2 separate regions of the Homo sapiens genome follow, and region 1 is linked to region 2. Evidence: fine-mapped expression QTL. A gene starts in region 2. The other region holds a variant in brackets. All regions are shown on one strand. Distances are between the middles of the regions. Region 1 holds the start of LOC107986578 (a long non-coding RNA gene). Region 2 holds the start of CDKAL1 (CDKAL1 threonylcarbamoyladenosine tRNA methylthiotransferase).

What was found.
Region 1: its variant is fine-mapped to the expression of CDKAL1 in whole blood (INTERVAL, PIP 0.98).

What each region holds. Positions count from the first base shown.
Region 1 is chr6:21,225,623-21,238,336 of GRCh38, reverse strand. It overlaps CDKAL1 (CDKAL1 threonylcarbamoyladenosine tRNA methylthiotransferase), which reads right to left. Exons shown (of 16, transcript NM_017774.3): 16 at 5,933-7,489. The coding sequence ends at 7,298. LOC107986578 (a long non-coding RNA gene) reads left to right here and starts at 7,278. Exons shown (of 2, transcript XR_001744021.2): 1 at 7,278-7,646; 2 at 9,509-10,533. RefSeq lists an enhancer at 6,917-8,116. The variant A/C (reference allele first, on the strand shown) is at 6,322.
Region 2 is chr6:20,527,678-20,540,391 of GRCh38, reverse strand. It overlaps CDKAL1 (CDKAL1 threonylcarbamoyladenosine tRNA methylthiotransferase), which reads right to left and starts at 5,935. Exons shown (of 16, transcript NM_017774.3): 1 at 5,818-5,935; 2 at 4,998-5,041. RefSeq lists enhancers at 5,737-5,816, 5,847-6,006.

The DNA of each region.
Region 1 (12,714 bases), 700 kb before region 2:
CAAGTTTAAGTATTTGATCCATTTTGAGGTAATTTTTGTACATGGTATAAGGTGAAGTCCAACTTTATTCTTTTGCACATGGATATCCAGTTTTCCCCACAGCATTTGTTGAAAATACTGTCCTTTCTCTATTTAATGGTGTTGGCGCCCTTGTTGAAAATCAATTGATTACATATGTGAGAATTTATTTCTGGGCTTTCTACTCTAGTCCTTTGGTCTCTGTCTGTCCTTAAGCAGGTATCACAGTTGTAGTTACTGTAGCTTTGTTGGAAGTTTTGAAGTTGGAAAACATGAGTCCTCCAGTTTTAGTCTACTTTTTAGAGATTGTTTTAGCTATTTGGGGTTGCCTGTGATTCCATATGAGTTTGAGGGTTGGCTTTTCCATTTTGGTAAAACAGGCTGTTAGAATTTTGATAGAGAGTGTGTTTAATCTGTAGCTCACTTTGGGTAGTATTAACATCTTAATGCTAAGTTTTCCTATTAATGAACATACGATACCTTTCCATTTTTCAGATATTCATAAATTTCTTTCAGCAATGATTTTTAGTTTTCAGCATACAAATCTTTTACCCCCTTAGTTAGATATATTCCTAAGTGTTTAATTTGTTTAGCTGCTATTGTAGATGGAACTGCTTTCTCAATTTCCTTTTCGGATTGTTCATTGCTAGTGTAAAAAAACACAAATGAATTTCTTTTTTTGCATTGGTCTTATAGTCTGTAACTTTGCTAAATTCATTTATTAGCTCTAGTTGCTTTCCTGTGGTTTCTTTGGGATGCTTTATACATATGATCATGTAATCTGCAAATAGAGATAGTGTTACCTACTCCTTTCCAATTTGATGCCCTTTACTTCTTTTTGTTGTCTAATAGTTCTCACTAGAACTCCCAGTACAATGTAAACAGCAGTGGTGAAAGCAGGCATTGGGCTTTGGAATCAGACTGTCTAGTATAACATCTATTGGTTTGTGATTAATTGGGCATATTAAAAGCAGATTAGATAAACCTCGGAGTTAAAAACTCATACTTCTTTAGGTTTTTCTGAACTCCAAGTTTTCCTTTACCTTGACCCAAGGTTGTTCTCCTCCATCCCCCTGCTTTTTTTTTTCCTGAGAACTTGCATCATTAGTGCTCAGAAATGTATTCAGATACCCAGAAGCTAGGAAGATCATGAGACACCAAGTGACATCCTTTGCTTCAGCTTCTACACCGTTGAGATATTTTGGCTATAGAACTCTAGGAAACAGTACTGGGAGAAAATAATTGACAGAAAACTAATCAAGAATAATAGTGTCTGCATTTCCTTTTAGTCTCAAAGCAGGATGGGGGAGGGCATGACTTCTAGGCCTCCCTATTAATCTGGTTGCTCTTTTCATCTTTGGCCATGGAAAATCTCCTTCTTGATCTTAGATTGGCCACCCAAATCTGTGCTCCACACTATTCATTAATTTGATCTCCTCAAATACAGCTGCAGTCCATTGCCTTTGAATTTTTCTTCCTTTGCTGCATTTGTTAGAATCAGACTCTATCTCTCTCAAGGTAGGAATCTTTTTATTCCATATATAAATCTTTTGGGTGGTCATGTGTTGATATCAGAATTTAAAACACCTAACTTTATTTATAAAGGTATTTTTCACCTTTAAGTGGCTACAGTAATCAAAAAAGAGGAGGAAATGTCATGTGTCAAGAATACAGTATTTTATATGCATGAGTTCACTTATCTTTCAATGACCCACAATGGAATCTTGTTCCTGTTTTAGAGATGTGGCTCAAAAAGAAAAAGTGGTCTGGCTGGAATTTAAAGTTTTGCTGATGTCAAAAATCTCATGGTCTTTCCTTATATTTTCTGCCTCAAATTTGTATTGGAAACAACTGAGAGCTGAATCCAAGTGATTCTGATTGTTAACTCCTTTACAGTTTCAACATCATAAAAATCAAACTCAACGGCAAGTCCAGTGTAAATTTATCAAACACATGCTATGGATAATCTAACTTTAAAGTAAGGGGAAAATATTTTGAGAAGGGATTAGGACTCCAGATTATAAGTTTGACATGGATCCTTTAAATTAGGTTGTATCATAGAGCAGAGGTTTTCAAACTTTCTTGATTGTTTGTACCCCTAGGCCAAAAGCAGCAGCTAACCTTCTGTTTAAATAGGTAATCCTGACAACTGAATAAGCATTTATATCCTACTATCTTATGAGAACCGTTTGAAAAAATAATACATGTAACTTAGATAAAAATATTAATATTTTATTTCATATTAATTTTACTTATTAATGGCAGCTGTGCATCTGTTGGGTACAGCACCCCTTCTCAAACCTTGGACTATGATCACAATTTTCACTTCTTGTTCCACATTGATTTTCACTTGATACTTGCTTTTTATCACAGCAATTGCTGAAAATCCAGTTTTATAAAGACATGGTGTCATCAAAATTTGTGAAATCTAACGTTGAAAACTGTGAACTATTTTGAGCTGGTAGTTGGCCTGGTATCTGACAGATGTTGCTGTGTTCCCTCCAAAAATTTAAGGAATCCCAGGGTGCTCCTGTGAATGTGCCACAGCATCCTGGGGTGCCTGGGGGGACCAGCAAACCTTTTAGAAAACGTACATATTCATTTTTTATTGTGAGTATTTAAGGTGAACATGTATTGATACACATATACACAGCAAAATGGTGGCTACAGTCAAGTGAATTACCATACCCATCATCTCATATGATTACCTTTTTTGTTGTTGCTGCAAGCCTTAAGAATATCTTTTCTCCTTTTCTTTTTCTTCCTTTTCTCTCCCCTCCTTTCTTCTCTTCCCTCCCTCTCTCTCTTCATTTTTTTCCTATGTTTGTTTTATGATGACAAACCCTCTTGAAGCTTGATTTGTAACTCTAATTCTCCCTCCATGACATCTTACAATATACACTGAAATTTTCAACCTGGAGTGAAGTCAGTAGAAGTAGTATATGTTTTGACTGAATGACATATGGAAATCTGATGTTTAGACACATTTTCCCAGCAACAAAGCAAAGTTTTAACCCAAGAATTCTTTACATTCTCAAACTGACTATCTCATGCTGGGATGATAAGAAAGGAAGCAGGGATGATAAGATGAAGCAGGGACAATAGAAAGGAGGGAAAGAAAGAAGGAAGGAAGGAGGGGGCAGGGCAAAGAAAAAAGCTTGATTAGTAAATCTTTATTTAAAAAGTATATCAAGTACCATGCACATTCTTGGAGCAGGACAACACAGACTGAAAGGCTGAAGGCCCCCAAGCTCAGGCATCCACAGGATTGATCCTAAATGTGTATCTGTTGGCACAGGTCAAGTTTAAGTCAAAGATGGGACAGAGGAGCAGGAGGAGTTTACAGAAGAGGAGTATATGCTTTGGAGTCAGGCTGTGTACCAGTCCTGCCTCTAAACTTAAGAGCTCTGTGCCTCTTGCACAAGTTACTTAGTCTTTTGAGTTTTAGATTTTCTTCTCAGTATGATGGGAATCACAATACGTATCTCAAAATTTTTTCTTCAGGACTGATTAACACCTGTTAAGTGCAAAGTATAACATCCAGTGCATTTCATTTAAGGACTAGACAGTTAATGGTTGTCAATATTATCATTACTATTAAAATAGGAATGACTTGTGGAAGGGAGACAGCAGAGACAAGGTCTGCTGAAGAATATCTAAGGTCCAAAGAGAAAAAATAGTGGGAGAATGACAGAATTCATGTCAACTGCTGGTGGGGATGTAAATTGGTACAACCACTTCAGAAAACCATTTAGCAGTATCTAAGCTGAACATATGCAAATGCTATGACCCAGCAATTCCACCCCTAGACATGTACTCCTCACATCATCACATAAACACTTAACAAAACGTGTTTATAGCAGCATTATTCATAATAGACAAAAAATTGGAAAGAACTCAAATGTAGAATGAACAATGTGGTGTACTCATACACTGAAATACTATTCAGCAATGAACGTGAAGTAATTACTGCTCACACAATAATCTGGATGTGTCTCACAATCACTGTAGAACAAAAGAAGGTAGACATGAAATAGTGCATACTACATGATTCCACTTATAGAAAGTTTAGAATCAGGCAAATCAATCTGTAATGTTAGAAATAAGGATACTGGTTACTCCTTGCGGGGCAGACTTAATGGCTAGGAGGGTACATGGGGAGCCTCCTGGTGCTGGCTACAATGCTTGCTCAGTTTTTAAAAATCCCTGTATCCCTATGATTTATGTCCATTTCATATGTATGTTTTATTCTAGTAAAGAGTTTAAGAAAAAAATTGGCCAAAGCATTGAAAAGATCACTTCATAGGTTTCCTTCTCAGCAGAGAAGTACACACACACACACACACACACACACACACACACACACCCCTTGATACTAATGCAAAGCATACAAAAGCATACAAAGAAAACATAACAATTACATTTACAATCTGCGGGTCAAGCATCCTATCACGGCTGACACTTCGTATAAATCAGGTTACGAATGCTACGGCTACGACCCCCAGATGCCGGTGGCTTAACACAACCACAATATATTTCTGGTTCCTGATGCCTATGTAGCACATGCTGGCCAGGAGCCCTACTCAACTGTACTAACTCAGGGACCCAGGGTCGGGGAGGCGTCATTCTGACATATGGGTCCAGGATCACCACAGCAGTGGGAAGAGCACACAGTAAACCGTACACCAGCTCTGAACATGTCTGCCCCGAAGAAGGACGTGACCCTTCCGCTCACATTTCACATTTCGTGCCTAACTTCAGCGGGGCGGGAGAAGCGCAGTTGCACTGTGGGCAGGAAGGAGACAGGCTGGAAAAGTAACAGCTCTACTCATGATCACACTTGCTCCCGTGGTTCCCAGACTCAGCCCCATTCAGAGTCCAGGGCTTAAGAAAACTGTTTTTAACTTGCACTGCATCCTTCTCTGCTCTCTCCCTCCCCCTCCCTAGAGATGGAGGTCACAGGGGGAAGAAAAACCCTGGATTTCCAGAACACTGCTACCCCTCTCACCAATTGGTCGCCAGTATGGAGACTGATTTCATGAAGGTCCAGCGTCTGCTGCGGGCAGTGACCTCGGTCCCTTTCTGGGTCAAACGGCAGAGTGAAGCTGCAGCCAAATTGAGGGTAAATAACAGTCACAGCAGGAAGTAGGGAGAATCCTGTACAGCTGAAACGATCCTTGAGGATCCCTGCCATGGTAGGTGAGAGCAGCAGGGGGGGAATTTGGATGACTGGGTGTATCATTCTCTTACAGGAAGAAAAAAATGAAAAAAGGCGAGGACAGCATAGAGCTAGAAGGGAGGAAATAAACAGATGAGGGAGTGAGGAAAAGAGTAGGGAAAGAGAAAAGGGAGGTAGAAAAAATCCTTTTTGTCTCCAATCAGTTACAGGTGTAAAGCTTTCTCTATGTCTGATCTAGTGCAACTCTAGGCTTTGGATGGCATTTTTATCTCTGCTAGGTTTTTGTTAAATGAGCACCACACTGGAACCCACTGTTTATTAACAAAGAAATGACTGCGTAGAGCTCAAGAAGGGAGGCACATGGTAGGTTCTTGTCCTCTTCTCATTCCTGCTAAGAAGTGAGGGGTGCTCCCAAGTGGATGTTTCACTGCAGGACTAGAAGCAGCACAGGAGGATTTTTGCATTCTAAATGTGAGCACCTCTTAGAAGCACATACCAGTTCCAGGAGAAATGTACTAACACTAAAAGCATATATATTTTATAATTTACCAACTAGGACATGACTGAATTTTAATTTGGGTTCCTTAAAAGACACACAAAACACAAACATTTTGAGTTAAATGTAAGAGCTGAAGAGGGGTATGGGTTTCGAGATGGAAAATATCCTATGGTAACTACACGGTACCTGGTTTTCCTGTACCTATGCAATCCAAATAAATTCTCAAAAACATAGGATTTGCTTAGTATACCAATTCTATTTATTGTTAAAGAAAGAAGTCACTTCACTTAGTAAAGACCAATGATGGCAGGTAGAAATAAAAACATTTAATCTGGGCTGGGTGGAGTGGCTCACGCCTGTAATCCCAGCACTTTGGGAGGCTGAGGCAAGAAGACTGCTTGAGGCTAGGAGTTCCAGGCAAGCCTGGGCAACATAGTGACACTCATCTCTACAAAAAATTAAAAAATTAGTTGGGCATGGTGGTATATGCCTGTAGCCCCTGGCTATTAGGGAGGCTGAGGTAGGAGGACTGCTTGAGTCCAGGAGGTCAAGGCTGCAGTGAGCCAAGATAGTGCCATTGCACTCCAGCCAGGGTGACAGAGTGAGACCTTGACTCAAAAAAAAA[A/C]AAAAACAAAAACAAAAAAAAAACCCCAATGGATCAAAAATGTGAGAAAATGGGCACAATTAGTTTTCGACAAATCCAGTTTTCCAGTTTCATATTTCACAGAATGTTGCCAGGAGTCCTTTAGCTGGCAGACTCTCCCCGTGCATTCCAAAAGCATTCAGGTTCCCAGAACAGGTTTCTATACACTTTTCAGGAACACATCTGCTGTGAAAAATACAATGTTTGTAGCACTGGGACTCCAAACAAAGCCTGAAGGGGAAGATGCACTTAAAAATATTTATTAAAGAGGCCGGGCGCAGTGGCTCACGCCTGTAATCCTAGCACTTTGGGAGGCCGAGGCGGGCGGATCACTTGAGGTCAGGAGTTCGAGACTAGCCTGGCCAACATGGTGAAACTCCGTCTCTACTGAAAACACAAAAAAATTGTCTGGGCTTGGTGGCGCATGCCTGTAATCCCAGCTACTTGGGAGGCTGAGGCAGGAGAATCGTTTGAACCCAGGAGGCAGAGGTTGCAGTGACCTGAGATCGTGCCACTGCACCACTCCAGCCTGGGGGACAAGAGCGAAACTCCATCTGGAAAAAAAAAACAAAGAAAAAGTTTATTAAAGATAGAAAATTCTTCCACATGAGGAAAAGATGGCCAGAGCCACTGTACAATTAGGTTCTGACTTAAAGATTAGAGATTGAAACAAACAGAAAAAAATGCAACCGCTTGCATTTCTTGCTAAAAGTAAACCAAAAGCAGTTTAATTTGAAGGATGTGCTATGGTAGCGGTGATTAGGTTTTAGGTCAAATAACCAATGGGCCCAACTCAATGTGAGACAGGGGGAGCCTCATTAAGAAGAGTGGCTGAGAAGGAGGCAGCATGACCAGTACAAATTATTGCCCTTGGAGAATGGAGATGTCGCTTTCCTGTTCATTGAAGATTTTAATTAGAAATGTATTCTTCTTTATAGATGTTTCCATTAGTTGTATTCTAATTATAGACCTTGACAAAAAAAGCAAAAAGAAGACCCAGCAGAGCCAAGCCCACGGACATCCTCAGCGCACAGTCTTGATGTAGCCTTGGCATGGGCAGCACCATTCTGGAACTCGCTGAGTCACACTGAGATGCAGCAGAGGTGTGGGATCCTGAACTCAGCTGGTTCCCAAGCCCATTTCTGAAGTCCTATAAAGAGAGAAACAGAGGAAAAAATTATTTTTAGATGCAGAGAAAGCCCTGTTGTGATATCAATCAAGCAATGGGTTCCAGAAGGTGCCGCCTTTTATGTACTCCTTCAACAGAGACACGTTTGAACACCCACCATGGGCCAGGTGGCCCCAAGGTAGGTATGAATGAGTCAGTTCCTTTCCTTGAAGGGCCAGGCCAAGTTCATGACTCCAGACTACACATAAACTGTATGAGAAAGACGGGCCGTGTTTATAGAAAATCAAGGCAGAATTCATGAAGGGTAGAATCTGTGTAAAGTGGAGTCATACCACAGACATATTTAACTCTTAGAGAGATGCAACCATATCTTCTCAGCAATGGAAGAATGACAAAGAAACACCATGGGCCAGGTGTGGTGGCTCACGCCTGTAATCCCAGCACTTTGGGAGGCCAAGGCGGGCTGATCACTTGAGGTCAGAGGTTTGAGACCAGCCTGGCCAACATGGTGAAACCCCGTCTCCACTAAAAATATAAAAATTAGCTGGGTGTGGTGGCAGGTGCCGGTAGTCCCAGCTACTCTGGAGGCTGAGGCAGGAGAATTGCTGGAACCTGGAAGGTGAAGGCTACAGTGAGCCAAGATTGCGCTGCTGCACTCCAGCCTGGGCAACAGAGTGAGACCCTGTCTCAAAAACAAACAAACCAACCAACAACCATGGAAGCCATGATTCAGCAAACACATCCCTAGGACAAAGATTCCCAGCTGGTCTGCTGCCACAGGAGGGCTGCGCCAAGAGTGACCCACCCCACATAACCCCACACTCAGTCCCCTCAAAGTACCTTGTGTGCCATACAAATACTATCATCATTTTCTCTTCATGCCAGATAGAGAACAGGTTGGGAAACCCTGCTTGGGCAGAGCTGAGAAGCTGGGGACCTGACTGTGCAGCTTTTCTCAGTGGTTTCTGTTCACCGGCTTCTTAGCTGGTGTCCAGGGAAGCGGAGAGAGGAGCACCTGGCTATTGTCAGGGTGGCTCTAGTTTCGAAGCACAATTGATGATATTTTCACCTCGTGTACCTGCTTCAGAATCGGTGCCTCCCCCAATAACATGGGACTCCCCTGTTGAAACCTGAATAACATTTTGAGAGATGGAAGGAGGGGTGTGGAAGGAGCAGATGAGAAATGCTAGATGGAAGGAAAAATGCTAGGGCGGAGGGGCAGCCCAGAGGCGGTGCAGGACAGGACAGGAAATCCACAGAAGCACAAAGTATCTTTGAACAACCATGGTACTTTGCTCAGTCTTCCCTTCCAAGCGCTCTAGCAACCTCCTGGTACCTCTTTGGCTTCTGTTTGGGAAGCTGCATCTCAGCATGCACAGGAGAGACACTGGAATGGTGCTTTGCAGAAGGTAACAGGAACAGGAATGTGTGGGGTGGACTGAAGGGAGGCAGGAGAATGGGGTAGAAAATCCAGTGGTAAGTTGTAGCAACAGATGAAATGGGAGATAATGAGGACCTCTATCAGGATGACGGCAGAGGGAACAACAGACTTTTGATGTAGAATCAATAGGATTTGAATTCAAAGGATTGGGTAATGCAAGACACAAAGAATAGGAATGGGGAAATGAAAACAACTTCTACAGCCCAGTTTCCACAGGCTCCTATTTATATGTGATTGTGTGGGAAGAATTCTTGCTCTGTCTGTAGAAGGCTAACAGCAGAATTAACACAGCTGTTAGCCACAAGGAAAAGTCTCTCAACCATAATGACAGTGGAAGCATTATTTACTGCTGCACTCCTCAGGTATCCGGGCCGATATCCTGCTGGTCTCCCTGCACTCTGAGTCCTTCGTAAGGAGGCACACAGCTGGACAGAATGGGACCATCCTTCCCATGGCAGGGGGAGGCAAGAGCTGGAGCTCAGTGGTGCACGAAGACCTGTCCCCATCCCCAGGAGACAGCTCTCTTATGAGGGTGGCTTTTTGCGTAATATTTTGGAGTGAGGTTTATGCTGAAGAGCTTCCATTTCTATTTAAAATAGCCTCAAGATCTCAAGGACAGCACTCACATATATGTGGGAACCTGGAGAAAGAATGCAGAGTCCTTCAGCTGAATTGATTGATAGGAACTATGTGAGTTCCTCAAAAGCAGCGAGTCTGCCTAATTCATCTCTGAAATCTTGGAACCTAGCAGGCTGCAGTCACAGAGCAGGTACTCAGTAAGTGTTTAGGAATGAATGAATGAATGACTGATCGAGTGAATAATATGAGAGTGTGTATTCCAATGAGATGAGCAACCATCAAGAACATTCTCATCTATGTCTCTGGTGATCAATGTGTCCTGTGATACATTCAGGAAGCTATTCTACTTGAGTCACAAATTGTTGCCTCTAGCAATTAAACCATCACTTTATAAGTGTGGTGTTATAAGACCAGAATTAAGAGGTTGATTAATTTCTCCGAGGCCTGAGTTCTTTAACCTTTGTAAGTCATAGATGGCTTTGAGAAGACTACACAGACCCTTCCAGAAAAATATGGAAGCACATTTACATATCCACACAGCCTCGCTCACACTCTTGTCTTCAGGAGGTTCACAGATACCTTCACCCAGGAGTGGACCCAGATTTTGTGGGTCCTGAAGCCTTCTCTTTAAGAAAAAAATAATGAATACAAAATTAGGTACAGGGTCTTGGAAGGGGCCCCTCAAATTGAGAGACCCCGAAACTGGCTACACGAGCTTCAGGGAAAATCCACCCTTTTCCCTATCCCCAGTTCAGAATGCTTGACCTTGGTTCTGAACCTGTGCCATGATTAGTGGTGCCAGGCCAGGTGTCAGGCTGACCTGGGGAAGGACTAGGTGAGTCTTAAAATCTTAAGCATTTAGTTGGGTTGATAACACGTTTTGTTTTTTGTTTCATGAAGCAGTGCAGGTACTGCGCCTTCTTGGCCTGGGTTAAAATAAAAGCAAAACTCTTTGACTTCTGATGACAATTTCAGAAAATTTCTTCTCCTTTCAACTCATCTGCCATAAAATTTTGTTCAAAATAAAGTTACCTACTGAACTACCGGAGAGGATTATTTGTGGTCATGTTAAGTTTAGTCATTCTTCCTCGGGCATCCTTTTTTTCTCTCCACCCCTCAGATGTTTAACATATTTGAACATAACTGATTCATAAAGGTATTTTGGTGCTGAGCTTTCCTCCTGTGCCTGCTGGACAAGTCTGCACCCTGCATCCTGCAGAGAAGCAGAAGCATGCATATGCAGCCACAAGATTTGCCACTCTCTTGAGGATCAAGGCGGGAGCGTGACCGCGGAGCAGGAGAGGGTAAATGCATCCTGTCTCTATTGTGCTGTGCCCTTTTATTATTTTCACCTTTTACCAAATCAAGATCTTGATAAAAGGATTTTGATGATACTATTTTTAAACATAATATTTTTAAAGTTTCTCAGATGACAGAGTAATTAATAATCAGTAGCTAGCTAGCTTTGCACATTTCAATTGTCACTACCACTGAGATACTTAAGAAAAAGTAGTTTAGAAATATGGGAAATATGAGATCTTATAAAGTCCAAGATGCTCAAACATGTAAATGTACAACCATACCAGTTGAAAGCAGGGATCATGAATAGAAAATAATGTAATAAAAAGTGCTTATAGGCGAAGTGATTATAAACAGCCGATAGAAAAAGTCGACACACACACGACAAGCGTAGTTCTAGAAAGTAAACAGAGGCTCAGACCTTCCCTAAACCTTTAAAACCTTATCAAGATTGTCAATTCCTGAAATTCAATACATATCTGCATCGCTCAAAGTATCATACACCAAATTCGAATAATGTTATTGCTTATTAAAACAAACTGGGGCTGGGTGCGGTGGCTCACGCCTACAATCCCAGCACTTTGGGAGGCCGAGGCGGATCACGAGGTCAGGAGATGAGACCATCCTGGCTAACACGGTGAAACCCCGTCTCTATTAAAAATACAAAAAATGAGCCAGGCGTGGTGGCGGGAGCCTGTAGTCCCAGCTACTCGGGAGGCTGAGGCAGGAGAATGGTGTGAACCCAGGAGGCGAAGCTTGCAGTGAGCCGAGATCGCGCCACTGCACTCCAGCCTGGGTGACAGAGTGAGACTCCATCTCAAAAACAAAACAAAACAAAACAAAAACAGCAACAACAAAAAAAACAAGCTGGAACATCAACTCAGACAATTTTTAAGAACTCAAATTCTACTCAGAAATGCTTTTTTAAAAACAGAAATTTGAAACAAGGCAGGATATGACCTTTGCTTACGCAAAAGGCGTTATTTATCTGTTAAATGGAGTTATTTATCCTGTTATAATAAAGACTAAGGGGCGCACTAAAATTCCCATCGTGCATTCTGTGTTAACTTTGATTAACATGGGTTTGTCTTCCCTTGTAAATCTCACTGCTCCCTTGATTAATTTCTAAATCTACTTACTTGCTAACTCTTAAAAATAATCTACTAATTTTCAAAAGTGTAGCTTATCAAATCCTATCAAAGTAATCAATCTGTTAAAGCAGAACCAAGTATGGATACCAAAATTTCAAAAAAAAAAAAAAAAAACTTTCATGTTCAGAAACTTTAGGGATCAGATTTCAATCAGTTAAAGATAAATACAGACAGTTGGGATGATAACAACAGTCTATCTCTATTTCCTTCGTCTTTAGCAGTTGTGCACGTATTGTTGGGGAAAGGAAAGAGATGCTTTTAACTTGAGCATGTTTCACGCCACAAGGCACAGATGGAACCGGTTCTAGGAGCAGTAAGTCCTCGAGCTCTGGGCTCTAATCCCAGCTCCATCTGAGGATTCTCAGGCAAATTTTATCCTCTTTTTGCCTCCATTTCCTCACCTGTAAAATGGAGATACTGCTAGTATTTGTGCATCATAGGGTTTTTATGAGGATTAAATTAGATATATATAGATTAAGTGTTCTGAACATTTAAATGTCAATTCAGATTAACTTATTCCATGGTATTCTGTGGTTCTAATGAAAAACGCAAACGTCCTCAGAAATTCTTTTTGTAAATTACAAAGTCATTATTTTATTTGCTTCTAAAATAGAATTGACCCGTGCTATTTTTGTTCCTTATGTATACCATTAAGAGGCACACACTATAATGAATGAGCATGGGTTTTGAATTGTGGCAGACCAAACTGAACGCAGGTTCAGACAGCCATGTGATCTTAGGCAGGTAGTTTAAACTCTCTAAGCCTGGCTATCCTT
Region 2 (12,714 bases):
TTCATTTAATGGCAATCCTGGCTGGGCGCAGTGGCTCATGTTTGTAATCCCAGCACTTTGGGAGGCCGAGGTGGGTGAATCACAAGGTCAGGAGTTCAAGACCAGCCTGTCCAACATGGTGAAACCCCATCTCTACTAAAAATACAAAAAATTAGCCAGGCATAGTGGCGAGCGCCTGTAACCCCAGCTACTTGGGAGGCTGAGGCAGGAGAATTGCCTGAGCCCAGGAGGCAGAGGTTGCAGTGAGCCAAGATCTCACCACTGCACTCCAGCCCGGCCAACAGAGTGAGACTCTGTCTCAAAAAAAAAAAAAAGACAATCCCAATCTTCTACTGCTCAGGCCAAAAATCCTGCACTCCCCTCTTTCTGTCACCCTAAATCCAATCAATCAACAACATCCTGTTGGCTGTACCTTCAAAATATATTCAGAATCTATTTGTGACCATACCCACTGTTACACTCTTGGTCCAAACCAACATCACCTCTTGTCTGGATTATTGCAATCCCTAATATCCTTGCTTCTATCCTTAAACTCTACAAGAACATTTTCAGCACAGAAGTCAGGGATCCCTTTAAAACCTAAGTTCATCTCAAGCTTCTCAATCAAACCCTTCCAGTGGTATTCCATATCAGAGTAAAAAGCCAAAATCACTACAAAGATCTGCAATGACATATATAATCAGCCTCCTGCTGCATCTCTGGCCCCACTTCCTACCACGCTCCCCTCAGTCATGCAGGCTTTGTTATTTCGTACCCACTAGATATGCATTCATTTCACAGTCTTATTCTTGCCTGGAATGCTCTTACTTAAGACACCTGAATGGCTCACTCACTCAAGCCCTTAAGGACTTTGCTCAAGTGTAACAAGAGAGGACTTTCCAACCAACACCCCCACCTCACCACACACCCTCTTCCTATGCCCCTTTCCTGCCTTTTTTTAAACTGTAGCATTTAATCATCTGCTTAAAATGTTTTAATAATTTTTTAACTGTTTATCTTACTAGAATACATACTTCGTGAGGGTAAAGGTTTTCGTGTGAGGTGTTCACTGTTTTATCCCAGGTGCCTAGAACTATGTCTAGCACATTGCAGGTTCTCAATAAATACTTTTACTGCAGACTACACAGTCGGGCAATATATGGATATAGATATTCTGAGTATGCCAAATTAGTTTCTGACTCGGGAGCCTTCATAATTGCTATTCCTCTGCCAGAATATCAGCCCCCAGATAAGTATGTCTTCCCACCCACTTCTTCACTCAAACAACATCTCCTCGGAGAGGCCTTTCCTACTACCTTATCTAAAATAACCACGCTGCCCAAGCATGCCCACACTTTCACTGCTTCTAACCCTGCTTTTGTTTCATGTTTCTTCATTGTGCTTACCTACCTGACACCACATATATAATTGTATCTTCCTCATTACAATGTAAGCTTGTTAAGCACAAAGGCATCATCTCTTTTTCAGTACTGTCTCTACAACACCTCTAACAATGCCTGACACATAGCAGGCACACAATAGTTACTGACTAAATGAATGAACACAATGCTTAAGTTGAATTTAGCTAGTCTTTCTATGACACAGCAGGAAATTCTACACTGGGTGGGAAGCTGAAGTAAATGCCCAACCCCTAGGATTTCTTCTATCACCACTCTTCTATGAAATAATTAAATGAGAGAGGCTAGGACCAGGTAGTGCCTTTGGAATGCGGAAGAACTACTGACAGATCATGAATAATTAAATAACATTAATTAAAAGCCATATTTTTTAATTACACAATTTTGCCATCCCATATACAAGTGTGTATGGATCCACTGAAGAGAAATAGAAAGGAAAAAGAGGAATGAAAGGAATCCACTGCAATAGACATCCCATATCATTAGAGTTAGAGAAGCAGAAGTTGCTAAGCTTCTTATCTTACAGAGCTGGAGTCCACTGAAGCAAAAGGATTTGTACATTGATAGAGCTAGAAATCAGAACCTTGGCATCCTCTCAATACCATGCTCTTCCCACTATGGCTTTGCCTCACTGGCAAAGTACAAACAATGCAAGAATCTAATGTGACACTAATAAGTAACCACATTCCAGAAAACAATGCGTAAAGGAAAAACAGGCAGTTCACTTAAGAAATACAAATACCCAGAAAAGAAAAAAAAAAAAAGAGGAAAGAATGCTCAACCACACTAACAACAAGTATTGAAACAATAAGTTATTTTTCAGCTGCCTCACTGATACAAAGCTGACAAAAACTCTGTTAGCTGAAAGCACAGAAAAACTGGTACACCCCTTCTGGAGGGCAACCTGACAATTATACCAAACATATGTATATCCTTCGAGCCAGCAATTTCATTTGGAGATATTCACTCAAAAAAGATAAATATAACGCTGCATATCAGCATTATGTAGCATAAACCTGGCTGTATATCATAAGTACCTAAATAATCTCACTCATCACTATTAATAAGCTAAAGGTTTTACTTTGAACAAACTGATAGACTGATAGAGGGAATTGTTTAGCCTTCAGAAATTTTTAATTAAATCATATGGAAATGAAAGTTTGAGAATAAAAGGAAAGCAGCGTAATAGCTAAATGGAGCAAAAGGATCATTAAAAATTTTTCTCAAAGGTAGAGGAAATCAAATTTGATAAAGGGAATAAAAATAGAGTCAGTGAAAAGGAAAATACTCAAAATGATAGGAAGAAGGAGGATGCAATATCCTAGAGCAGTGGTTACTTACATAGGTGAGTTATTAGGGAGGCTTTTTTTTTTTTTTTTTGTAATTATGAGACAGAGTTTCACTCTTGCTGCCCAGGCTGGAGTGCAATGGCACGATCTCGGCTCACTGCAACCTGTGCCTCCTGGGTTCAAGCAATTCTCCTGCCTCAGCCTCCCGAGTAGCTGGGATTACAGGCACCTGCCACCACGCCCAGCTAATTTTGTATTTTTAGTAGAGACGGGGTTTCACCATGTTGGTCAGGCTGGTCTTGAACTCCCAACCTCAGGTGATCCACCTGCCTTGGCCTCCCAAAGTGCTGGGATTACAGGCGTGAGCCACTGCACCCAGCGGGAAGCTTTTCATCATATCAAATCTCCAGGTTCCATTCTGAATTAGAATCTCCAAGAGTAGAACTGAAGTATGTGAACATAGAAACTGTCCAGGTAATTCCACTATAGATCCCTAATTAAGAACCACGATTCCACAGTAATGGTTCTCAATCTTCAACACTCATTCTATTCACCTGAAGAGCTTTTGAAAATTCCCAACTAAGCTTGCAGTGAGCCGAGATCACGCCACTGCACTCCAGCCTGGGCGACAGAGCGAGACTCTGTCTCAAAACAAAAACAAAAACAAAAGAAAAAAAAGAAAATTCCCAACTAAGCCCCAAGATAGCTGAATGAATCTCTGAGAATGGAGCCTGGGCATCAATATCTTTTAAAAACTTTCCAGTCATTCTCATGTGTGTACAGCCACAGTTGCAAAGCAATGTCCAGTGGTTTTCAAAGTGTAGTTTCCACATCAGCTGGAGTAGCATCATGGGGAACTTGTTAGAAATGAACATTTTTTCTTTTTCAGTTTTTTTGTAAAAACAAGGTCTCGCTTTGTTGTCCAGGCTGGTCTCAAACTCCTCCCATCTTGGCCCCTAAAGTATGGGATTACAGGCATGAGCCACCATGCCCAGCCAGAAATGAAAATTCTTGAACTCCACTCCAGACATACTAAATCAGATATTTTGAGTAAAACCTAGCAATATTTAACAGGCCCTCTAGGTGATTTTGATCTGAATTAAAGTTTGATAATCACTGTCCCAGAATTATTCTTTCATAAAAACCACCTAGAATGTATGTCAAATATACATAACCTAGACAATTCAAGGGGGAAAGCGTAGTTTTTTTTTCAACAAATGACACTGGGATAACTGGATAGCAACATGTAAAAAATAAAGTTGGAGCCCTATTTCACATTTCACATCATATACAAAAATTAACCGAAAATGGATCATAGACCTAAATTTAGGAGCTAACATTATGAAACTCTTAGAAAAAAACATAAGCACAAATCTTTATGATGTTAGAGTAGGCCCTTCTTTCTTAGCTAAGAAATGAAAAGCACAAGCAACAAAAGGAAAAACAGATTAGATGAAGAAGATACAGAAATGGGCCAGGTGCAGAGGCTCATGCCTATAATCCCAACACTGGGAAGCCAAGGTGGCAGGATCACTTCAGGCCAGGAGTACAAGGCCAGAGCCTAGGCAACACGGACCCTATCGCTACAAAAAAAAAAAAAAAAGTAAAATTTAGCCGGGCATGGTGGCATGCACCTGTAGTCCCAGCTACTTGGGAGGCTGAAGTGGGATCACTTGAGACCAGGTGGTCAAGGCTGCAGTGAGCCGTAATCGAGCCACTGCACTCTGGCCTGGGTGGCATAGGGAAGCCGTGTCTCAAAAACACACACATACAAATGGCTGATAAGCACATGAAAAGATGTCAACATCATGAGCCATCAGGGAAATGGAAATCCAAACCACAATAATACACCACTTCATACCCATTAGGATGGGTAGAATCAAAAAGACAAATAACTGTTGACAGGCATGTGGATTACATCACCCAGAGGGGAAGAAAAAGAGAACAGAGGTAGGAGAAGGTACAAGACCACGACTTGAGAGACTCCAAATTTAACTGCCAGATAAAGGAAAATCAGCTTATAATGGATTCCAAGAAGCAGCCACCAGACAAGGAAAAAAATCCATGGGCCATGGAAGGCAAATGAAAAGGGCATCTCAAAAAAGTGGACATGGTCAATGCTGGTGAATGAAAATGAAAGGTTAAGTAAAATAAATGAAAATATCTCTTCGATTTAATGCTATGTAAAGCACAATGTTTCCATAACATGATAGTGGCAAATAGCTAAAACATTAGGCTACCTCTCTGCATTTTCTAACATGCAGAAATACGCACAGCACTCAAACATAAAAGGTTTAAAATAAATCAGTACCTTAATTATCTGCAATTAGTCTAAAGTCCTCTTGAAAGATGAGTCTGGAAAATAAAAATTGATTAGGAAAAGTAAGCACCCAAAAAGTTCACAAAACCACTGTAAGGATTCTTTACTTAAAAGGAATCAGACTCCATAAAAGACTGCTTTATACAGCAGGATTAATGATGCTCCATACTACTTGTAACTTCTTACTGATTACAACAGGTGTGCTGACATCTGCCGTGACGGTGATCCAGTGTCTGGCTTTAGTAATAAATGTTGTATTCAGCACCGCAACACGTCTGCATAGTGCGAGTAACCAACCACTACAAAACAGGATTAAGTCAATAAGGTAGATAGACATCCAGATCACGTTCCATCCGAAAGATAACTGTCGTCCCGAGATTCAGAAAAAGGTTTTATGAGCAAAGAAGAACGAAAAGTGAAAAAGCAAGACACCTGCTTTTCTCAATAACTTCTGCTTAAATTCTTAACATACTGATCTGGGAAAGCTATATAACTGCGAAAGCCTTGTCACATCTACAAATTCACTAAGGTATAAAGTGGGAGAACAAATGAAGTTAAACCTGACAATAAGGAACGAGGTGCCTAAAATACTCCTAACTGGAGAGCGGCACCTGAGGCCAACGACCCTATCCTCGCTCCTGGAAGCCCCATCTGCCTCCCAATTCCCCCATCCCAGCTGGCAAATCCCCTTTTAACTGCGAAACAAATTTGCAAACAGCCCAAGAAAAACTGAAACTGGAGAAACAAGGCTTGGCCATAAAAGGAGCTGTGGCCACACTCTGCCCCACATGGACCCATCGGCCACCCTTACCCAGAAGTCGGGAAGTAAAAACCAGTCCAAAGTGAGAAAATCAACCCGCCACTCTCCGGAAGCTGCACAGACTTTAGATGGAGAGCGCCATGACACATACGTCCCGCCACGTTTATTTGCGCATGCTCAGCGACGGTGGCCCGAAGAGATCAAATTACATCATTGCTGAAAGCGCTAGTTCTGGTTTAACTTAGTTTAGGAATGACTACGCTTCAAGTTCCTTTGATTCCAAGAACTAAAATAACAACCCTGAGTCCTCGGGTTCCTAGAAATGCTTAATAGCCAACTTCTCCTAAGCTTTTATGTGTTAGACACTGTGCTAAGTACTTTGCATAAATATTATTCACTATTTATTTATTATTATTATTATTCCCAGTTTACAAAAGAGGACACTGGAAGTTTAAGGACTTAATCTAAGTTACTCTACTAGTCGTGCTGCGCTCTGGGCTGGATCCGATGCTGTCTGACTCCCAAAGAACTTGCTCTTTTCACTGCATTTTACTAGCCTCCTCAATCATTTGTGAAAAGAGGTCTCTTCTTTAATATTAAAAAAACAGGAAGGAAAGGATAAAGGTCAGTTGGTAGGTTTCACTTAATATACATCATTGAGCACCACACAAGTGTTTTTGTTTTTTGTTTTGGAAAACTTAGATGGCAGTTTAGCAGACACCTATGGAAAGAAAATACTTTTATGGAGTACGGATTCTCACCCGCTTTCTCTACATATGTTATCTCACTTTACTATTCGTTACCCAAGACACTGTATTTGACCATGTGTTTACCAGAAGAATATCTTTACTTGAAAAAGTAAAGGTAATAGGAGGCAATAGGCCATGAAGAAGGGTCAGAAATCGTGAGTTTTATGCCTGACTTAGGGTTTCATAGTGATTTGGGGCAATTACTTTGTTTTGCAAATGCCTTTCCTAGTACAATTTCATCTAATTAAAATGCCATCCATCTACTCAAGAGGCTGATGTGGGAGGATCACTTGAGCTCAGAAGTTTGAAAACAGCCTGGGCAACACAGTGAGACCCAGTCTCTAAAATAGATTTAAAAAAAAAAAAAAAAACCACCCTTTTCTCTGTTTATCCATATCCATAAAATAATCTAAACTGTGCCCTGGGGTCCACTGTTGTCTTTACCCACCTAAATTAAAATTGTGTATTTATGTTGCCCTACTTTTTTTTTTTTTTTTTTTTTTTTTTTAGATAGGGTCTTCTTCTGTCACCCAGGCTGGAGTACAGTGTTACCATCACAGCTCACTGCAACCTCTCCCTCCTAGCCTCAAGAGATTCTCATGCCTTAGCCTCCCAAGTAGCTGGGACTACAGGTGCACACCACCATACCCATCTAATTCCATCTCTTTCACTAGACCAAAAGTAGGCCCTGGGTTATCTTCTTGGTTGTAATCGCACTACCTAGCACATAACCTTGTGCCTATGTTTATAGCTTCTCAATAAACATATGTTGAATGAATGAATGAATGAATGAATGACTCCACCCCTTTTCCCCCAAGATCTAGTTGAGTTCAGTAAAAGATATTTTACTGAGTATGTACCCCATGACCACAAGCACTGTGATAGATGCTAGAGCTAAAAAGAAAGAAAAAAAGTACTGCCTATTGCAATTGCAGGCTATTTTGAAAAAATTCATTTCAGTAGAGAATAGCAATCACTATGAAAGATGAATGCACAGGAACACAAAGGTGAAGTAAGGGAAATGGATGAAGGCATTCCAAGCTGGAGAGTCAGCCAGAGCAAAAGCAAGGAGGCCTGAAATGATGAATTATTCCACAGTGTAAAAGCAAAGAGAGTGAAGCTGGTGATGGGAGAAGTCTACCAGAGAAAGGGAAGCACAGGGACTAGATCAAGGTGAACCTTGTGTATTCAAAGGCATTAGACTTAATCCTGGATGTATGTAGTAGGCAACATGAATGTGTTCGAGCAGATTATTCTCTCAGGACAATGGGTTTGAGGACGATATTTCAGACATGAAGAAATAGTAAAAGCCTAAATTGAGTTGTTGGCTGGGAGGAATGGGAAGGAAGGACAGATTTAAACAAATTGAGGAGGTAACAGCAGCAAGACTTGGTGATTGATAGGTACGAAAAAAGAGGAAGAAAGGATGTTTTCAAGTTTTGGCTACAAAAACTAACTAACAGGTGAAACCTCTCTCTTTAAGCACCTTTAGTCTAAATCCTTTGAAGTCAGTAACCCTACCTCTAGGAATTTATCTTACAGAAATATACATAATGACCTATGTTCCAGAGTATTTTTTGAAGCATTGCTTACAATGACCTATGTTCCAGAGTATTTTTTGAAGCATTGCTTACAATGACCTATGTTCCAGAGTATTTTTTTAAGCATTGCTTACAATAGCAAAAGACTGGAAACCCTCTCCGGCTCCTCCTCAATAGAGTATTGGTTAAATATATTTATAGTATCTGTACAACCTTTGAAAAGCAACCAGTAAGTCCGGGTGCAGTGGATCACGCCTGTAATCCTAGCACTTTGGGAAGCCGAGGCGGGTGGATCGCCTGAGGCCAAGAGTTCAAGACCAGACTGACCAACATGGTGAAACCCTGTCTCTACTAAAAATACAAAATTAGCTGGGTGTGGTGGCATATGCCTGTAATCCCAGCTACTCAGGAGGCTGAGGCAGGAGAATCTCTTGAACCCAGGAGGTGGAGGTTGCAGTGAGCGGAGATTACACCATTGCACTCCAGCCTGGACAACAAGAGCGAAACTCCATCTCAAAAAGATTAAAAAAAAAAAAAAAAGGCCAGGCACGATGGCTTACGGCTGTAATCCCAGCACTTTGGAAGGCTAAGGTGGGCGGATCACGAGGTCAGGAGATCAAGACCATACTGGCTAACATGGTAAAACGCTGTCTCTACTAAAAATACAAAAAATTAGCCAGGCATGGTGGCATGAGCCTGTAGTCCCAACTACTCGGGAGGCTGAGGCAGGAGAATCGCTTGAACCTGGAAGGCGGAGATTGCAGTGAGCTGAGATCGCGCCACTGCACTCCAGCCTGGGCAACACAGTGAGACTCCGTCTCAAAGAAAAAAAAAAATAATGCTTTGTTTCTTAAATTAGAGTTAAGCTTCATAAATATACACCATCCTATTTTGTTCCTGTTTTTTCAGCCAACAATATAACACTAAATGCTTTATAAATATTTGGTAATAAGTAAACAAACCAATTGGTGTATACCAAGAACATTAAAAATGCAAGTAAATCTATAAAATAATAGTAAAGCTAAGATTTTTTCAAACACTTATAAATGTGTGCCAATAACCACCCATAAGTAACCCTATAAATGAGGAGTGCTATTATTATCTTGTTATCTCTTTTAACAGAGAAGAAACCTAAAGCTTAGGCAGTCTGACTTCAGTTGTTTTAACAACTCTATATGAATACTTCAGAAGAAAGCAACAATAGTGCAAAATTTCAAATAGAGAAAAAGCATTGGAGAGAAAAAACAAAAGAGTGATCAAGGAAAAGTGGAATAAAATCTGTTTGCCTGGACCGGGCACAGTGGCTCATGCCTGTAATCCCAGCACTTTAGGGGGCCGAGACAGGTGGATCACGAGGTCACAAATTCAAGACCAGCCTGGCCAAGATGGTGAAATCCCGTCTCTACTAAAAATACAAAACTTAGCCGGGCGCGGTGGCAGGCACCTGTAGTCCCAGGTACTCGGGAGGCTGAGGCAGGAGAATCGCTTGAACCTGGAAGGTGGAGGTTGCAGTAAGCCGAGATCGCGCCACTGCACTCCAGCCTGGGTGACACAGTGAGACTCCATCTCAAAAAAAAAAAAAAAATCTGTTTGCCTTAAATATTTTATGTTGGCCTTCACAGTAAAAATTGAAGAGAAAATATGGACAAGAAAGAAGTTACACAATTCTTACCCTCTCAGTGACTAATCAATAAAGAATAAAATATGAAAATTATAAAAATCTGGGGCCAGGCACGGTGGCTCATGCCTGTAATCCTAGCACTTTGGGAGGCACAGGCAGTTGTTTCACTTGAGCCCAAGAGTTTGAGACCAGCCTGGGCAACATGACCAGACCCTGTCTCTACAAAACAAACAAAAAAGTAGCCGGACATGGTGGTTCCAGCTACTCGGGAGGCTGAGGTGGGAGAATCACTTGAGCTCAGAAGGTCCAGTTTGCAGTGAGCCGAAATCACACCGCTGCACTCCAGTCCAGGCAGCAGAATGAGACCCTCTCTCAAAAATAAATAAATAAAATTAAAATTAAGAATTGGGAACTGCTTTTTAAGATTATGTTTTGGAGACAGGGTCTGGCTTTGTCACCCAGGCTGGAGAACAGTGGCACCATCAGAGCTCACTGGAAACTTGAACTCCTGGGCTCAAGCAGTCCCCCCACCTCTGCCTCCCAAGTAGCTGAAACTACAGGGGCATGCCACCACGCTCGACTAATTTTAAAACTCTTTTTGCAGCAACAGAGTCTCACTATGTTGCCCAGACTGGTCTTGAACTCCTGGCCTCAAGCAGTCCTCCACCTCAACCTCCCAAAGCGCTGGGATTGCATGCATGAGCCACCAGCCCAGCTGGAACACATGTTTTAGATTTAGTTGATGATCTGAGCAACTAGCCATTATACATACACATCTGTACCAATCAATATCCCTTTTCATGAGAAAATATTCATGTGCTTAATTCACTCTTGAAAGATGATAAACAATATACATGAAATTTTCTATGTAGAACATTAGGTGAATTTAGTAGAATGAGAGTTAAAACAGATTTTTATATTTATATATATATAAGCTACATATAAGCAAAGTGAAAAGTATGACTATTAAGTGCTCTTAATTTTTTTTTTTACAGGAGCATGCCACCGTGCCCAGCCAATTTTTGTAATTTCAGTAGGGACGGGGTTTCACCATGTTGGCCAGGCTGGTCTCGAACTCCTGACCTCAGGTGATCCGCCTATCTTGGCCTCCCAAAGTGCTGGGATTACAGGACTGAACCACTGTGCCTGGCCAACTAAACAGTTTTTCAGGAAAGTTTTGCAGGTGTTGGATGAACCCAAGAAGAAAGATGGTAACAGCAGAGGAATAGAGGGGGGCAAAAAGAGAAATACTAGATCTATGAGAAACGAAAAATTGCCCCGGATGGATGGGTGCTTCAATGTAGAGAATAAAAGGGAAGAATGCTGATGTTCTTTAATAAACTGATAAAAAGATCATATAGGAACATGATGTGAAATAACCTCCTATTGTCTTTGGACAAATGCTGAATTTTCTCTGCATAATTTAACCACTAGGGGTCAGAGTGCTATACTTCTACTATCTTTTTTTTTTTTTTCTTTGAGATGGAGTCTTGCTCTGTCACCCAGGTTGGAGTGCAGTGGTGTGATCTCGGCTCACTACAACCTCCACCTCCCAGGTTCAAGTGATTCTCCTGCCTCAGCCTCCTGAGTACCTGGGATTACAGGCGCCCACCACCACACCCGCCTATTTTTTTTTTTTTTTTTTAAGTAGAGACGCGGTTTCCCCACATGGGCCAGGGTGATCTCAAATTCCTGACCTCAGGTGATCCACTTGCCTCGGCCTCCCAAAGTGCTAGGATTACAGGCCTGAGCCACCGCGCCTGGCCCATTTTTGTATTTTTAGTAGAGACAGGGTTTTGCCACGTTGGCCAGGCTGGTCTCCAACTGCTGACCTCAGGTGATCCGCCCGCCTCGGCCTCCCAAAGTGCTGGGATTACAGCCCTGAACCACTGTGCCTGGCCAACTGAACAGTTTTTTAGGAAGATTTTTCAGGTGTTGGATGAACCCAAGAAGAAATATGGTAACAGCAGAGGAATTGGGGGGGGCGGGCGGCGAGAGAAATACTAGATATATGTGAAAGGAAAAATTGCCCCAAATGGATGGATACTTCAATGTGGAGAATAAAAGGGAAGAAAGCTGATGCTCTTAAATAAACTGATAAAAAGATCATACAGGAACATAATGTGAAATAAATCAACCTCCTGTTGTCTTTGGACAAGTCCTGAATTTTTCTCTGCATAATTTAACCACTAGGGGTCAGAGTGCTATACTTCTATTAACTTTTTTTTTTTTTTTTTTTTTTCTGAGACAGGGTCTGGCTCTGTCACCCAGGCTGGCATGCAGTAGTGCTGTCACGGCTTGCTGCAGCCTCGACCTCCCAGGCTCCAGCGGCCTGCCCACCTCAGCCTGTCAAGTAGCTGGGACTATAGGTGTGCACACCGCCAATCCTAGCTAATTTTCTTAATTTTTGGTAGAGACAAAGTCTTGCTGTTACCCAGGCTGGTCTCAAACTCCTAGCTCAAGTGATCCTCCCGCCTCAGTCTCCCAAAATATTGGGATTACAGGCTTGAACCTCCTCTTTCAGCTTTACTATCATCTATTCTACTCTATCAACTTACACAGATATGTTTGGTTCAATTCTATAATTAATTTTATCTGTTCACTCTCCCACTCTCAGTACAAGTGTTTTGGGGGTTGTACAAGTGCCCTGTAGCCCAAGCCAGAGAAATGAGAACATCACAGGGAATGCAACCAACACCAGGCCAGCGTGAATTCGGGGTTGTCGGTCAACTGTGAAATTCTGAGGCAGAAGCTTCCAGGACTACCACAAGGAGAGCACCGGCCTGAGATTGAAGCTATTTTTTTTTTTTTTTTTTGAGACAGAGTCACGCTCTGTTGCCCAGGCTGGAGTGCAGTGGCACAATCTCGGCTCACTGCAACCTCCGTCTCACAGGTTCAAGCAATTCTCCTGCCTCAGCCTCCCGAGTAGCTGGGACTACAGGTATGCATCACCACGCCTGGCTAATTTTTTGTATTTTTAGTAGAGACGGGGTTTCACCGTGTTAGCCAGGATGGTCTCGATCTCCTGACCTCATGA